2 separate regions of the Homo sapiens genome follow, and region 2 is linked to region 1. A link means that fine-mapping ties the variant in region 1 to the expression of a gene that starts in the linked region. Tissue or cell type: transverse colon. Region 1 holds a variant in brackets; the other region holds the start of a gene. All regions are shown on one strand. Distances are from middle to middle.

Region 1 (8,134 bases):
TCACTTTGTTGCAATATTCACTTTACTGAAGTGGTCTAGAACTGAACCTGCAATATTTCCAAGGTATGCCTGTAGTTGTGAGATGTCAGTGTTTTACTTGAAGTGTTAAAACATTGATTTTAAGTTGACTGTTAAAATTAGGTATGTGTATTATTATCCCTAGATCAACAGCTAAAAAAAAAAAACCACAAAAGATATAGACAACCAATATATTAAATTGGAATATAAAACATATTCAAATAATCCAAAATATAACAGGAAAGGGGACATTGAGAGGCAAAAAAATGGAGGAGACAAGCAGAAAAATAACAAATTGTAGACCAAAATCCACTCTTATCAATAACTACATTAAATGTAAATGGTCTTTAAAAATGTAAATGGTCTAAACACACCAATTAAAAGACAAAGATGGCTGGGTGCGGTGGCTCACGCCTGCAATCCCAGCACTTTGGGAGGCCGAGGTGGGCTGATCACCTGAGGTCAGGAGTTCAAGACCAGCCTGGCCAACATGGTGAAACCCCACCTCTACTAAAAATACAAAAATTAGCCGGGCAAGGTGGTGCATGCCTGTAATCCCAGCTACTCGGGAGGCTGAGGCATGAGAATCGCTTGAACCTGGGAGGCGGAGGTTGCAGTGCACTGAGATCATGCCATTGCATTCCAGCCTGGGCGGCAGAGCAAGATTCCATTTCAAAAAAAAAAGACAAAGATCATCAGATTGGAAAAAGAAAAAAACAAGACCCAACTATATGCTATTACATTTTATTTTATTTTTACTTCTCAAATGTTAAGGAAACCTATTTTAAATATAAAGATATAAATATAGGGAAATTACATAATGATAAAAGGGTCAATTCACCAAGAAGATAAACACTGAAATATAATATGCAACTAACAAAGATCCAAAATAAATGAAGCAAAAATTGATAGAACTAAAAGAGATATGGAAAAATCCACAGTCATAACTGGGAGACTCAATAAGTCCATTCTCAATGACTGATAAACAAATAGATGGAAATCAAAAAGGATATATCAAACCTGGATAACGTTATCAACTGGTTTAATATAATGGACATTTACAAAAAACACTCTACCCAAGAACAACAGAATACATATTCTTTCCAAGTGCCCACAGAACATATACCCAGATAGATCATATTCTGGGTCATAAAATAAACTAACAATTTTTAATAAAACCACATAAAGCATGTTCTCTGGCTATACCAAAATTAAACAAGAAATAAATAATAGAAAACTCCCCCAGCCTAACCAACATGGTGAAACCCCGTCTCTACTAACAATACAAAAATTAGCTGGGCATCGTGGCGGGTGCCTATAATCCCAGCTACTCGGGAGGCTGAGGCAGGAGAATTGCTTGAACCTGGGAGGTGGAGGCTGCAGTGAGCTGAGATCACGTCATTGCATTCCAGTCCAGGTGGTAGAGCAAGATTCCATTTCCAAAAAAAAAAAAAAGACAAAGATTATCGGATTGGAAAAAGAAAAAAACAAGACCCGACTATATGCTATCAGCAAGAAAGCTATTTTATTTTATTTTTACTTCTCAAATGTCTTATGGTTTAAGGAAATCTATTTTAAATATAAAGATATAAATATAGGGAAGTTACATAATGATAAAAGGGTCAATTCACCAAGAAGATAAACACTGAAATATAGTATGCAACTAACAAAGATCCAAAATAAATGAAGCAAAAATTGATAGAACTAAAAGAGACATGGAAAAATCCACAGTCATAACTGGGAGACTTCAATAACTCTGTTCTCAATAACTGATAAACAAATAGATGGAAATCAAAAAGGATATATAAAACCTGGATAACATTATCAACTGGTTTAATATAACGGACATTTATAAAACACTCTACTCAAGAGCAACAGAATACATATTCTTTCCAAGTGCCCACAGAACATATACCCAGATAGATCATATTCTGGGTCATAAAGTAAACTTTAACAATTTTTAATAAATTAAAACCACACAAGGCCGGGCGTGGTGGCTCACACTTGTAATCCCAGCACTTTAGGAGGCTGAGGCAGTGGATCACCTCAGGTCGGGAGTTCAAGACCAGCCTGACCAACATGGTGAAACCCCATCTCCACTAAAAATACAAAACTAGCCGTGCATGGTGGCACATGCCTGTAATCCCAGCTACTCGGGAGGCTGAGGCAGGAGAACCGCTTGAACCCAGGAGGCAGAGGTTGTGGTGAGCCGAGATCATCCACATAAATGGTGTTCTCTGGCTATACCAAAATTAAATAAGAAATCAATAATAGAAAACTCCCCCAGCCTGACCAACATGGCAAAACCCTGTCTCTACTAAAAATACAAAATGTCATTGCATAACATTGTATGCAATGTCTAATGTTATTAGACATAATGTTATTGCACATTTATTAGACTATAATATAGTATAAACATAACTTTTATTTATTATTGTTTTTCTTTTTAGACGAACTCTTGGGCGTGATAGTGCGCGCCTGTAATCTCAGCTATTCAGGAGGCTGAGGCAGGAGAATTGCTTGAATCCAGGAGGTGGAGGTTGCAGTGAGCTGAGATCGCACCACTGCACTCCAGCCTGGGTAACAGAACAAGACTCTGTCTCAAAAAAAAAGAAAAAAAAGAAAAAAAAGAGAACTCTCAAATATTTAGAAATTGTTAATATACTTCTAAATAATCCATGGGTCAGAGAAAAAATCTTAAAGTAAATCAGAAAATATTTGAACTGACTGAACATCAAAACAAAACATATCAAAATTTATGGGTTGCAGCTAATGCAGCGTGTACAGGAACATTTATAGCTTTACATGCCTATGATAGAAAAAAGAAAGGCCTCAAATCATACTCTAAGCTTCTACCTTAAGAAACTAGAGAAAGAACAAATTAAACCTAAATCAAGCAGAAGAAAAAGAAATTAGAAAAGCAGAATTCAATGAAATTGAAAACAGAAAAAAATAGAGAACAATCAATAAAACCAAAAGCTTTGAAAAGGTGTACAGAATTCATAAACTTTTTGACAGATTTACCAAGGAAAAGAAAGAGAGAAGACATAAATTACTAATATCAGGAATGAAAGAGGGGATGTCACTTCAGACCCTCCAGATATTAAAAGGATAATAAGAGAATATTACAAACAACTCTATGCTCATAAGTTTGACAACTTAGAGGAAATGGACCAATTTCTTGAAAGACACAAATTACCTAAACTCAGTCCAGAAGAAACAGATCAGAGAAATAGTCCTAAATGTACTAAAGAAAATTTAATTCATAGTTTAAAACCTTCCAATGTAGAGAAGAAAACTCCAGGCCCAGAAGGTTTCTTTTCTTTTCCTTCCTTCCTCCCTCCCTCCCTCCTTCCCTCCCTCCCTCCCTCCTTCCTTCCTTCCTTCTCTCTTTTCTTTCCTTTTCTCTTTTCTTTTCTTTCCTTTTCTTTCTTTTCTTTGTGGCAGGGACTCACTCCTGTTATTCAGGCTGGAGTACAGTGGTGCAATCACAGCTCACTGCAGCCAAGACTTCCACACCCAGCAAATTTTTTTGTATTTTTAGTAGAGATGGGTTTTCATCATGTTGCCCAGGCTGGTCTCGAACTCCTGGCTCAAGCAATCTGCCTGCCTTAGCTTCCCAAAGTGCTGGGATTACAGGCATGCGCCACCATGCCTGGCCCCCAAATGGTTTCACTGGGAAATTCTACCAAATGTTAAAGAAAGAAATAGTATCAATTCCACACAAACTCTTCCAGAAAATCAAAAAAACTTAGCTCATTTTATGAAGGCAGCATGGTCCTGATGCCAAAATTTGAAAAAGATAACAAGAAAACTATAGAACAATACTTCACATGAACATATACCCCAAAACTTCAACAAACTACAAACTATTAGCAAAGGAATCCAGAAATATATATATATTTTTAAAAAATAATACTTCACTACTATGTGGAGTTTATCCCAGGTAATTTAATGCTGGTGTAACATTCAAAAATAGCCAGGCATGGTGGCTCACGCCTGTAATCCCAGCACTTTGGGAGGGTGAAGCGGGCAGATCACCTGAGGTCAAGAGTTTGAGACCAGCCTGGCCAACGTGGTGAAACCCCGTCTCTACTAAAAATACAAAAATTAGCTGGGTATGGTGGTGTGCACTAGTAGTCCCAGCTACTTGGGAGGCTGAGGCAGGAGAATTGCTTGAACCCGGGAGGTGGAAGTTGCAGTGAGCTGAGATCGCACCACTGTACTCCAGCTTGGGGGACAGAGCAAGACTCCATCTCAATAATAATAATAATAATAAATAAATGAGCATAATTCACCATATTGGCAGACTAAGGAAGAAAAAAACACATGATAATCCTAACTGATGAAGAAAATGCATTAACAAAATTTAAAACCCATTCATG[A/AT]TAAAAAAAAAAAAATCTCTCAGCAAACTAGAGAAGGAAACTTCGTTAATCCAAAAATATATATATATATTGGCCGGGCGCAGTGGCTCACACCTATAATCCCAGCACTTTGGGAGGCCGAGGCAGGCGGATCACCTGAGGTCCAGAGTTCAAGACCAGCCTTACCAACGTGGAGAAACCTCGTCTCCACTAAAAATACAAAATTAGCCGGGTGTGGTGGTGCATGCTTGTAATCCCAGCTACTCGGGAGGCTGAGGCAGGAGAATTGCTTGAACCTGGGAGGTGGAGGTTGCAGTGAGCCAAGATCATGCCATTGCACTCCAGCCTGGGCAACAAGGACAAAACTCTGTCTAAATATATATATATATATATATATATATATATATATATGTATATATACACACATATATATGTACATATATACATATATCTACATATACATATATACATGTATACATATACATATGTATACATGTATATATGTATATATGTGTATGACCTCCGGTGATCCCCCCCCCAACCTCGGCCTCCCAAAGTGCTGGGATTACAGGTGTGAGCCACTGCACTTGACCGCAAATCACATTTCTAACAAAGGACTTGAATCCAGAATTTATTTTTTAACATTTTTAAAAAATTTTATTTTATTTTATTTTTGGTAGAGACAGGATTTTTGTATGTTGCCCAGGCTGGTCTCAAACTTCTGACCTCAAGTGATCCTCCTGCTCAGCCTCCCAAAGCACTAGGACTACAGGCATGAGCCACTGTGCCTGGCCTAGAATTTATAAAGAACCCTCAGTAGGGCGCAGTGCCTCATGCCTGTAATCCCAGCACTTTGGGAGGCTGAGGCAGGCGGATCACGAGGTCAGGAGTTCAAGACCAGCCTGGCCAACATAGTGAAACCTCGTCTCTACTAAAAATACAAAAAAATTAGCCAGGCATGGTGGCAGGCACCTGTAATCCCAGCTACTCAGGAGAATGAGGCAGGACAATCACTTGAACCCGGGAGGCAGAGGTTGCAGTAAGCCAAGATGGCGTCACTGCAGTCCAGCCTGGGCAACAGTGTGAGACTCTATCTCAAAAAAAAAAAAAAAAAAAAAAACTCTCAAAACTCAGAAATAAGAAAACAAACAATTTTTTAAAAAGGCAAAAGTTTTGAACAGGCACCTCACCAGAGAAGATACATGGATGGCAAATAAATATTTGAAAATATGCTCAACATCATTTGTTGGTAGGGAATTGCAAATTAAAACCACAGTAAGGTATGTCTATACACCTATTGAAATTGAAAAAAATCCCTGACAATACCAATTGTTGGTGAGAAGGCGGAACAACTGCCACTCTCATAAATTACTGGTGGGAAAACAAAATGATACAGCCCCTCTAGGTTTCTTATAAAGTTAAACACACACTTACCATAGGCTCCAACAATCCCTCCTAGAAATTAGCCCAAGTAAAATGAAAATTTATGTTCATACCAAAACCTGTACGTGAATGTTTACAGAAGCTTTATTCATAATTGCCAAAACTAGAAACAACCTAAATATTCCTCAACTGGGAAGTGGAGTAACAAACTGTGGTACATCCATACAATACACTACTACTCAGCAATGAAAAGGAATTGACTACTGATACACTCAACAACATGGATGAATCTTAAATCCATTATGCCAAGTGAAAGAAGCCAAATTCAAAATACAACATATTGTATGGTTCCATTTTATATGACAGTCTGGAAAAGAAAAAACTATAGGAATAGAGAACATATCAGTGTTGCCAGGGCTTAAGGGTAGGGAAGGCTTTGACTACAAAGGGGTAACAAAAGGGAATTTGGGAAGGTGATTAACTGTTTTATTTTTTTGTTTGTGTGTGGTGGTGTTTACATAATTCTTTGCATTTGTCAAAACTCACAGAACTCTACACCAAAATGTAAATTTTACTGAATGTAAATTACAATTAAATTATATGTATGCAAATCTATTATGTGTATGTTTGTGTATATATATATATATATATATACACATATGAATATTTTTAAAAGCTTTTTCCCCTCATATTACTATCAAGTCATATCTCACAGATTTTGTATTTGTACAATTATTCTTTCTTGAGCCTGAAATTAGTTAGGACTGTTTTGTTTTGTTTTTTTCTTGAGATGGAGTCTTACTCTGTTGCCCAGGCTGGAGTACAGTGGTATGATCTCGGCTCACTGCAACCTCTGCCTCCCAAGTTCAAGTGATTCTCTGGCCTCAGCCTCCCGAGTAGCTGAGACTACAGGCGCTCACCACCACACCTGGCTAATTTTCATATTTTTAGTAGAGACGGGGTTTCTCCATGTTGGTCAGGCTGGTCTCGAACTCCTGACCTCAGGTGATCTGCCTGCCTTGGCCTCCCAAAGTGCTGGGATTACAGGTGTGAGCCACCACGCCCGGTCAAGTTAGGACTGTCTTCATCTCTGTTAACCTTCCATTTCCTCTCCTTCCACAAAACCTAAACTTTATTATTATTTGAAACATAATTTTTGAGTAAGTTATTCCGTCTCAAGAAGGTCCAATTCGTGTTATTGAGAATGGTAAAATAATACACTACCTGCCCTGGGCACTTTAGTGAGAATCCATTTATTGGGTTAACTAGCAGTGACTGTGGATGGCAGTGAGCAGGCCTGGGAGTGGCCAGGACATAGGACAGATGTGCTTTGATGGGAGAGAAGGGAAGGAAAAGCCGGCAGCACAGCGATGGGAAACTAGAGGCCAGAGGTAGAGGTGGAGGGCAATGATCAGGGAGCAGAGATGACAGCATGCCAAGGACATCCTGTGCTGACTTCACAGGCTGGCTCTGGGCATAGGCCAGTCTCTTCCTGGAGCTTTCATTTTCTCTCTTCGGAATCTGTCAACTCTCTACTGCAATCTGTTCCACAGTCGTATAGCCAAAATCCTCTTGCTCTGTGTCTGTTTATTCAACAAATATTTATCTTAACTGACTCTAATCACATTGTCTCCTGTTTGTCCTGCAGTGAAGCCCTTTTACATCTGCTTATCTCTTTTGATCCAAGGGAAGGAGACTTAACCCTGACTTCCAGAGAAGGAAATAGTCTCAGAAAGGTTAAGTCATTTATCTGAAGTTGCCCTTTTAATACTGAGTACTGGACTCTCTCAGTATCCGCGTACTCTGCTGCCCCCTACCGTGAACATAGCAATAGGTTTTAAATCACAAAAACACACAGCAGAACACTACACAACACTGGAAAGACTACGACACTATAAATAGTGCTTACATTTGTTCATTTAGCAAATATTCAGCTGGACGTGGTGGCTCACGCCTGTAATCCCAGCACTTTGGGAGGCCGAGGCAGGTGGATCACTTGAGGCCAGGAGTTCAAGACCAGCCTGGCCAACATGGTGAAACCCCACCTCTAAAAATACTAAAATTAGCCGGGCATGGTGGCACGCACCTGTAATACCAGCTACTCGGGAGGCTGAGGCAGGAGAATTGCTTGAATCCAGGAGGCGGAGGCTGTAGTGAGCCGAGATCACACCACTGCACTCCAGCCTGGGTGATACAGCAAGACTCCATCCCCAAAAAATAAATAAACAAATATTAATTGAGAGCCTACTATATGCCAGAAATAAGCAGGTATTGTCCTTGTGTTCATGGAGCTTATGGTGTAGAGGGGGAGACAGAATTACACAAAATAATTACTTAATTACAGTTTGAATAAATACTATGAAGTACAA
Region 2 (8,134 bases), 58 kb before region 1:
GGTCTCTAATGACACAGTTGCGTAGCTGACCCAATGCTAGAAATTACCTCTAGACTTTCTTTTACTTGAGAAAATAAACCCTCTTTATTTAAACCGTTAGCCAAATGCAATCTCAATCTCTCTTCTTTTGATAGTAACATCTCAATTTACCCTCGAGGAATCACTCTTCCCCGGCAGTCACTCCTGTGGTTTGGGAGAGGCTGATCCCATCCCTCTAGCTGTGGAGTGGGTACTTGACCTGAACCAGTCCAAGTCTTTTTTTTGAGACAGGGTCTTGCTCTGTTACACAGGTTGGAGTGCAGTGGTGTGATCATAGCTCATCACAGCCTCGAACTCTGGGACTTGAGCAATGTTGGCCTCCCAAAGTGCTGGGATTACAGGCATGAGCCACCACACCTGGCCCTTTTTACCTTTCTAAGCATCAGGTTTCTTTTATATCTTTTTTTTGTTTGTGTGAGACAGGGTTTTACTCTGTTACCCAGACCAGAGTGCAGTGGTGCGATCTCGGCTCACTGCAACCTCTGCCTCCCTGACTCAAACAATCCTCCTACCTCACCCTCCTCCCTAACAAATGGAGCCACAGACATGTGCCATCATGCCTAATTTTTTATATTTTTGGTAGAGACGGGGTTTCACCATATTGCCCAGGCTGGTCTTGAACTCCTGTGCTCAAGCAGTCCTGCCGCCTTGGCCTCCCAAAGTGCTGGGATTACAGGCGTGAGCCACTGTGCCCATCCCTAAGCATCAGGTTTCTTAACGATAAGAAGGAGTAAAGGTACTAACCTCAAGAAGTTGTTAGAAGAATTAATACATGTCTGTACTAAGCCCTACAGAAACATACTAACTAGTCACTGATATTATTTCTTTATAATTTTTTTTGAGATGAAGTTTCACTCTTGTCACCCAGGCTGGAGTGCAATGGTGCAATCTCGGCTCACTGCAACCTCCGCCTCCCGGGTTCAGGCAATTCTCCTGCCTCAGCCTCTCCAGTAGCTGGGATAACAGACATGTGCCACTATGCTGGGCTAATTTTTTGTATTTTAATAGAGATGGAGTTTCACCATATTGGCCAGGCTGGTCTCAAACCCCTGACCTCAGGTGATCTGCCTGCCTCGGCCTTCCAAAGTGCTGGGATTACAGGTGTGAGCCACCATGCTCAGCCTGATACCCTTTTATTATCATTGAACATGGCCACTAGAATGTAAGCCTCTGAAAACAGGAGATGTCAAAGTCTCTGTATCCCCCATAGAGCTATGCAAGCCTATCACAATTCTCCGTACATAACAGGTCCTCTATAAATGTTTGCTAAATAAATGAATCTGCATAAGTTGTAGTTCGTTTTTCCCCTATCTAGCTAGGCAACCACAGCCGGACGCTTCAGAATCATGAGATGCAAATAAAAGGCCTAGGAGAGGAATTCATTTTTCACCCACAGTCACGCTGCCAAAAGAGGAAGGATGTTGGTTATGTAACAGTGGAAAGGAAAAGAAACAGACGAGATACTTACCAGCAAGGTGTCCAGTGCATCAATTAGAGTCAGAGAAAAACTGCAAAAGGACAGAAATCCCAGCCGCTTAGTAAGAAAATCAAATACCAGATATTATGGCTGCCCTAGATCTGATCCCCCTAAAACTAAATGAGGCAAAGTAATGCCTCTGCCTGTCCCACTTACAGTCACAACAGAGAAACCACAGTGAAAATCGCAGGTATTCTCTGACCCACTTAATGCACCTGGGAGGGTTGGCTGATGTAGCTCAATTGTAATTAAATACATCACCTATAGTCTGGCATTCTCCTCTACCATTGGGAGGCAGTATAAGATTGCAGCTTAAAGCACAGGCCTTTCACCAATTTTCACCTCTAGGAATTTAATTCACAGTGAACAGCTGTTTGAGAGTGTTCATGGCAGTATTGCTTAGAACAGCAAGAGGCTGGAAAGAACCCAACTGTCCACCCATTAATGGGTGATTAAACTGTGTTATAAACAGTGCAAAACTATGAGTTATCAAAAAGATTGTTATCAAGACTTCTATGTGCTGATGGAAAGACATTCGAATTGTTTTTAATGAAAAAGTCAGGGTGGTTTAGTATGTTTCCATCTGTTTCAAAAAGACATGCTGACAGAAAGCAGACAGCAATTGTTAGGGTCAGTGGTGGTGCAGGGATGAACTATAAAGGGCCACAAGGGAACTTTTTAAAGTGACAGAAGTGTTTCATATCTTGACTGTGATGGTGGTCACTTCAAACGAGTGTAGGCTGGGCACAGTGGCTCATGCCTGTAATCCGCCAGCACTTTGGGAGGCCTAGGTGGGTGGATCACCTGAGGTCAGGAGTTCAAGACCAGCCTGGCCAAATGACAAAACCCCGTCTCCACAAAAAAATTAGCCGGGTGTGGTGGTGGGCTCCTGTAATCCCAACTACTTGGGAGGCTGAGGCAGGAGAATCGCTTGAAGCCAGGAGGCGGAGTTTGAAGTGAGCCAAGATCACGCCATTGCACTCCAGCCTGGGTAACAAGAGCGAAACTCCATCTCAAAAAAAAAAAAAAAAAAAAAAGAGTGTATTTTATTATATGTAAATTATGCCTTTAAGAAGTTCATTTTAAAAAGATACACATACACACATCTATATATATAATGGTATAAACCAAGAATATTTCTGGACAGATACAAAGGAAAGTTAATAGTTGGAATTCTAGGGTATGGGAGATATTTATTGTATATAATCTTTTACCACTTGAATTTGCCATTTGTATTTACTTTGTTTCAACTTAAAAAAATAAAAACCATCACAAGTTTTGAGTTTAATTTCTCCCGACCTTAGCACATTCGTGTGTAAAACAGGGATAATGGCACCTAACTCGTAGGGGTATTAAGATACTGAGCTGAGATCTGAATGACAAGCAGCAGCCAGTGATGGGAGGAAAATGGGGAGTGTATTTCAGGCACGGGGCACACCAACTACAAAGACTTAAGTTTTAGGAGTGTCACACTCCTTCCTGGATCTGAATGCCCACCTACATAATGAAAGGGGTGGGTTTTCTAATTCTTGGAGCCCTTCCACGGTATCTCGTTACTCCAGAAATTGCCTATGTCCCCACAGCTGATGCCTGTTACTGCTGGGGCTGAGCTCAGCGATCCAGCCCACCCGGCTAATCCAGGACTTTTTTTTTCACTGCGAGAGGCTAAGTGGATCCTGGAGGTGATAGTAAGAATTGCGGGGAGCGCGGCTCTAGCTCAGCTGGGAGCTTTCTGGTGCCGGTGAGGAGACCATGAAGCCACCAGCCCCAGCTGACCCGCCCGCCGAGGCCCAGAGAGTCAGACCCTGGCCGCCCCTTGCCCCTCCGCTCGCACTACCTGCCCCAGGTGTCGTGCCCGTCACAGGTGAGAGGTCGCAGCTCATCGAAGGGAAAGGCATTCTCCAGGTAGCTGTCGTAGGCGTGGTAGAACATGGCCTTGACTCGCTCCCTGGGTGGGGGACGAGAAATCAGGCATGGGGCAAGAACACAAAAACAAGCGGGGGAAGAACAAGATACAGGGCGGAAAGTGGGAATCACTAGCTGATTTCTCCCTGGGACCTAGCGGCTGTGTCGGAGCAAGTCGGGGTCTGGGATGGACGGAAAGGGAAAGGACCGGGTTCACGCTTCCCATTCCCCAACTGCGAAAGGGCGGGTCACAGTTCACCTGTAGTGGGCGGGATCTGGCGCGGAGCCGTCGGGACCTGGCGCACCATGGTGCTGAGGCAGCAGCGCGCACAGGAGGCCGAGCGGGATGAGCAGCCGGAAAGGCATAGAGCTCGTGTCCTCTCAGCGCCCCCGCAGCAGCAGCAGCCACTGCAACCAGTTCATCCTGGGAGCTGCTGCGGGTTCTTCCGGGAATCCGCGCCACTGCGCCTGCGCGCTGAGAAATCAGCCTCTCACTTCCGGACTACAAGCCCCTGAATGCAATGGGCAGCGAAACGCGGCCGAAGAGCAACTTCGGATGTACGGTTTCGGCAACACTGATCAACGTGTCTTAAAGTCAGTGGCTGTTGTTACTACTGTTATTAATTAATGTTTTAATAATAACAGCTAGCATGTATTGAGCACTTATTGTGTACTAGTACTGTACGGAGCATTTAAAATGCATTCTCTCATTCATTTTTTTCAACAACCTTATTAAGTATGAAGGCAGGGTAAGCATGAGAAATGTTCAGCCTTTACCATTATTACCTAGCAGGACAAGCCGCAGACAAAACTCCTCAGACACCGGGTTAAAGAAGGAAGGAGCTTTATTCGGCCGGGAGCGTCAGCTGACTCACTTCTCAAAAACGGAGCTCCCCGAGTGAGCAATTCCTGTCCCTTTTAAGAGCTTACAACTCTAAGGGGGTCCGCGTGAGAGGGTCGTGATTGATTGAGCAAGCAGGGGGTACGTGACTGATTACCGGTGCACCGGTAATCAGAACGGAACAGAACAGGACAGGGATTTTCACAATGCTTTTCCATACAATGTCTGGAATCTATAGATAATATAACCGGTTAGGTCAGGAGGGGTCGATCTTTAATTACCAGGCCTGGAATGCATCGCCGGGCTGTCTGACTACTGATTTCACTTCTGTCTTTCTTTTAACTCCTACATTTTCTTTGAGGCAGAAATTGGGCATAAGACAATATGAGGGGTGGTCTGCTCCCTTATTTAGGGATATTGAGTTTCCCAAACCAGTTACTTGTTGATTGTATAAGACACAACTCACATTTATTTGTCCAAAACTTCCACTCTTTTTTTTTTAAAACCTCTTGCATTTTCCGATGCTGTCACTCTTGAGGTTTCCTGAAATCCCGTCAGTTCTAGGAATTCATGACACTTCTCTCCTCCCAATTTGGGATGTGGTTACACAATCATGGTCCCTTCAGTCTCCATCTCAAACCGGAAGCTTTACCCCTGTCAGCCCTGTAGAATGTCTTGGGTAAGAATGAATACCCTGGTTGGGCGCGGTGGCTCACGCCTGTAATCCCAACACTTTGGGAGGTTGAGGTGCGTGGATCACCTGAGGTTAAGAGATAGAGACCAACCTGGCCAACATGGTGAAACCCCGTCTTTACTAAAAATACAAAAATTAGCCAGGGGTGGTGGCGGGTGCCTGTAAATCCCGGCTACTCGGAAGGCTGAGGCCGGAGAATCGCTTGAAACCGGAAGGCGGAGGTTGCAGTGAGCGAGGATCGCGCCACTCCACTCCAGCCTGGGCAAAACAGCAAAACTCCATATCAAAAAAAAAAAAAAAAAAAAAAAAAAAAAGACAAATGACTACCCTGGGGCACTATAGCTTTCAGGAGGTTTGTGATCCATTTCTCCATTCCCCTTATTCCCAAGTTTCTAAAATTTGGTCAGCACCTTAGACCACAGCAACACCCATGACTTTGGTCAGTGTGACATGCGGTAGAACCAACACTGGATTTGAAGTCAGATCTAGGATCCAGTTAATTACAACTCTGTCACTCATCTATAACCTGTGTATGTGACCCTCTCCTTCTCTGGGGCTAGCATCCTTGTCTATAAATAATGAGGAGTTTGAACAAATGGATCTTTAAGATCCTTTTCGGTCGAGCTTTCTATGATTCTAGGATTGGCTATCTCTTATTTGCTGAAAAAGTCAGATGGAAGTGATAGCTCAGTTTGTTGAGCCAGAGTGCAGCCAGGCCTCCCAAAGTGCTGGGATTACAGGCATAAGCCACTGTACCCAGCCTGGGATGTTTTTAGAAACTCTTCTTGGCCGGGTGCAGTGGCTCACGCCTGTAATCCCAGCACTTTGGGAGGCCAAGGCGGGCGGATCACGAGGTCAGGAGTTCAAGACCAACCTGGCCAATATGGTGAAACCCTGTCTCTACTAAAAATACAAAAATTGGCCGGGAGTGGTGGCAGACGCCTGTAGTCCCAGCTACTCAGGAGGCTGAGGCAGGAGAATCGCTTGAACCCGGGAGGTGGAGGTTGTAGTGAGCCAAGATCAAGATCAGGCCACTGCACTCCAGCCTGGGAGACAGAGCGATACTCTGTCTCAAAAAAAAAAAAAAAAAAGAAACTCTTCTTGGGGCTTCCAAATGGAAGGGAAAGGAGATGACAGTAAGCTGAGACCTGGATAACAACACAGGAGCACTGTATTCGTTTCCTGTGATTCCTGCAACAAATTACCACAAACCAAGTGGCTTAAAGCAACAGAAATTTATTCTCTCGCAGTTTGGGAGGTCAGGAGCCTGAAATCAATTTCACTGGGCTAAAATTAAGTTATTGACAGGGCCACACCCACTCCAAAGGCTCTAAGGGATAATCCGTTCCTTGCCTCTCTAGATTCTCCTGACTGCTGGCATTCCTTGGCTTATGGTTGTATCACTCCAGTATCTGCCCGTGCCTTCATATCGCCTTCTCTGTGGATGTGTCACATCTCCTTCTGCTTTTCTCTTATAAGGACATTTATAATTGCATTTAGGACCCCCCCCGCGCCCCCCCCAACCCAGATAATACAGGATAAACTCCCATTCCAAGATTTTTAACTTAATCACATCTAGGGGGAAAAAAAAAAAAAAACACCATTTTTCCAAATAGAGAAACATTTACAGTTTCCAGAGATTAGGACCTGGACTTTAGGTGGCTGTTTCCAGCCTAGCGCAGGGACTAAATATTTTTCAGACCTGGGCCTTTCCCTGTGACGAAATTCACCTTCTCCATATTATAAATCCTATAGCTTATCTTTTTGTCTCCCATTCAAAATTCTAGTGTGGATAAAACTTTTGCAGGAAGGGTGGGTTCAGGTTGCCTGGATTTGGTAACGATAGGTCTCTCTTTATGAGCAAGATTGAAACACTCATGATTTTCCTTTATATTCTTTTTCTAGCTTGATGTCATTCTCCACACTGTCACTGAACAAATAAAACCATGACTTACGTTTTCACAATTCATGTGACTATATGTTCTCTAATGAGAATAAAAAAATTGTTTTACCCTCTGGAAAGTATCAGGACTCTTCTTTCTCTCACTCTGTGTTTATGATATTGGATTCTAGAAGGTTATGACCCACCAGTGAAGTGTCACACTTGAGCATTTACTTGTGAAGAGACTCAGGGTAAGTTGCCTACCTCTCTGAGACTCAATTTCCTATTGTAAAATACAGAAATTGATGAGGCCATAAAGGAATTCTGGGAATTAAATGGGATAATGAAAGTGAACATTCTCAGCACAGTGACTGGTATATATTAAATTCTTGATACATATTAATTCTCTTCCCTGCCTCCCCAACTCTTCTTTTTTTTTTAAGGCAGGGCAGTTGTTTCCATTTACTGAGCATCTGCCCCGAGTCATCCAAGGTGTTATAGGCAATAGTTCCTACCCTCAAAAGTTTGAGGCACAGTGCTGAGCATATAACTAAGATTCCAAAATAATCAAGTCATAGTCCTTTCCCTTGAAGTGCTTGCAATTTTGTTAGAAGGGGAAGATGTCAATTGGAGAATACTTGGAATCATAGGGTGTTCAAGTCTTCCCTGTGGGTGAATAGAGTTTGGAGGGAGCTCAGATCACATCAGTATCTGAGGCCAATGTCCTCGGACTCTGTGTTCAGTGGAACAAGACTTGGACTGGTTGTCGGAAACCCTTGGTCTTGTTACTTGTTTATCCACTATCTCTGTGTGATCTCGGGCAAGTCATTTTCCCTTTTGGGGACTCAGTTTCCATATCTGGAAGATGAAAGAGTGAGACTATCTCTCAGCACAAGGAAAATATTAACAGATCCATACAGTTATTGCAAAAAATCAGAAAACAGAATTCAACACACATCGACTGCACAAATTTCCCCCAGAAACATCCATGAAGCAGAATAAAACAGTGGGACAGCATTCCAAATGGAATTTGACTATTTGCCAACTAAACAAGGAAGAGGAGGGGGATGGGGAGGGGGACAAGAAGAAGAAGGAGAAAATAGTCACGTGTATTGATAATAGCGAACATTTACATAGCAAGTAATGTTCTTTGTACTTTACATCCATCAACACCATTAATCCTTACCACAACCCTCTGAGAAAGTGTCATTATCACCATTTTATAAACCAAAAACCTGAAGCACAGATTCTAAGAATTGAAGAAAGATTTAGCAACTTAATCAATGTCTCATACCG

Alleles and levels. Alleles are on the strand shown, and positions count from the first base shown. SD is a standard deviation of normalised expression in the study named.
For the expression in transverse colon of the gene that starts at base 3,865 in region 2, allele AT in region 1 goes with a lower level than allele A (small effect, 0.27 SD a copy in GTEx).

Evidence for each region. PIP is the estimated chance that this variant, and not a neighbour inherited with it, causes the effect.
Region 2: EDEM2 starts here. The variant in region 1 is fine-mapped to the expression of EDEM2 in transverse colon (GTEx, PIP 0.98).

The regions. Positions count from the first base shown.
Region 1 is chr20:35,200,996-35,209,129 of GRCh38, forward strand. All of the region lies in intron 4 of MMP24-AS1-EDEM2 (MMP24-AS1-EDEM2 readthrough), which reads right to left. It also overlaps a transcript of PROCR not described here. Among named protein-coding and RNA genes, the nearest start is that of MMP24, 22 kb to the right of the region's middle. The variant A/AT (reference allele first, on the strand shown) is at 4,404.
Region 2 is chr20:35,143,472-35,151,605 of GRCh38, forward strand. EDEM2 (ER degradation enhancing alpha-mannosidase like protein 2) reads right to left here and starts at 3,865. Exons shown (of 11, transcript NM_018217.3): 1 at 3,681-3,865; 2 at 3,354-3,464; 3 at 1,508-1,547. The coding sequence starts at 3,787. It overlaps MMP24-AS1-EDEM2 (MMP24-AS1-EDEM2 readthrough), which reads right to left. Exons shown (of 15, transcript NM_001355008.2): 6 at 3,354-3,464; 7 at 1,508-1,547. The coding sequence starts at 3,448. RefSeq lists enhancers at 3,047-3,650, 3,899-4,028.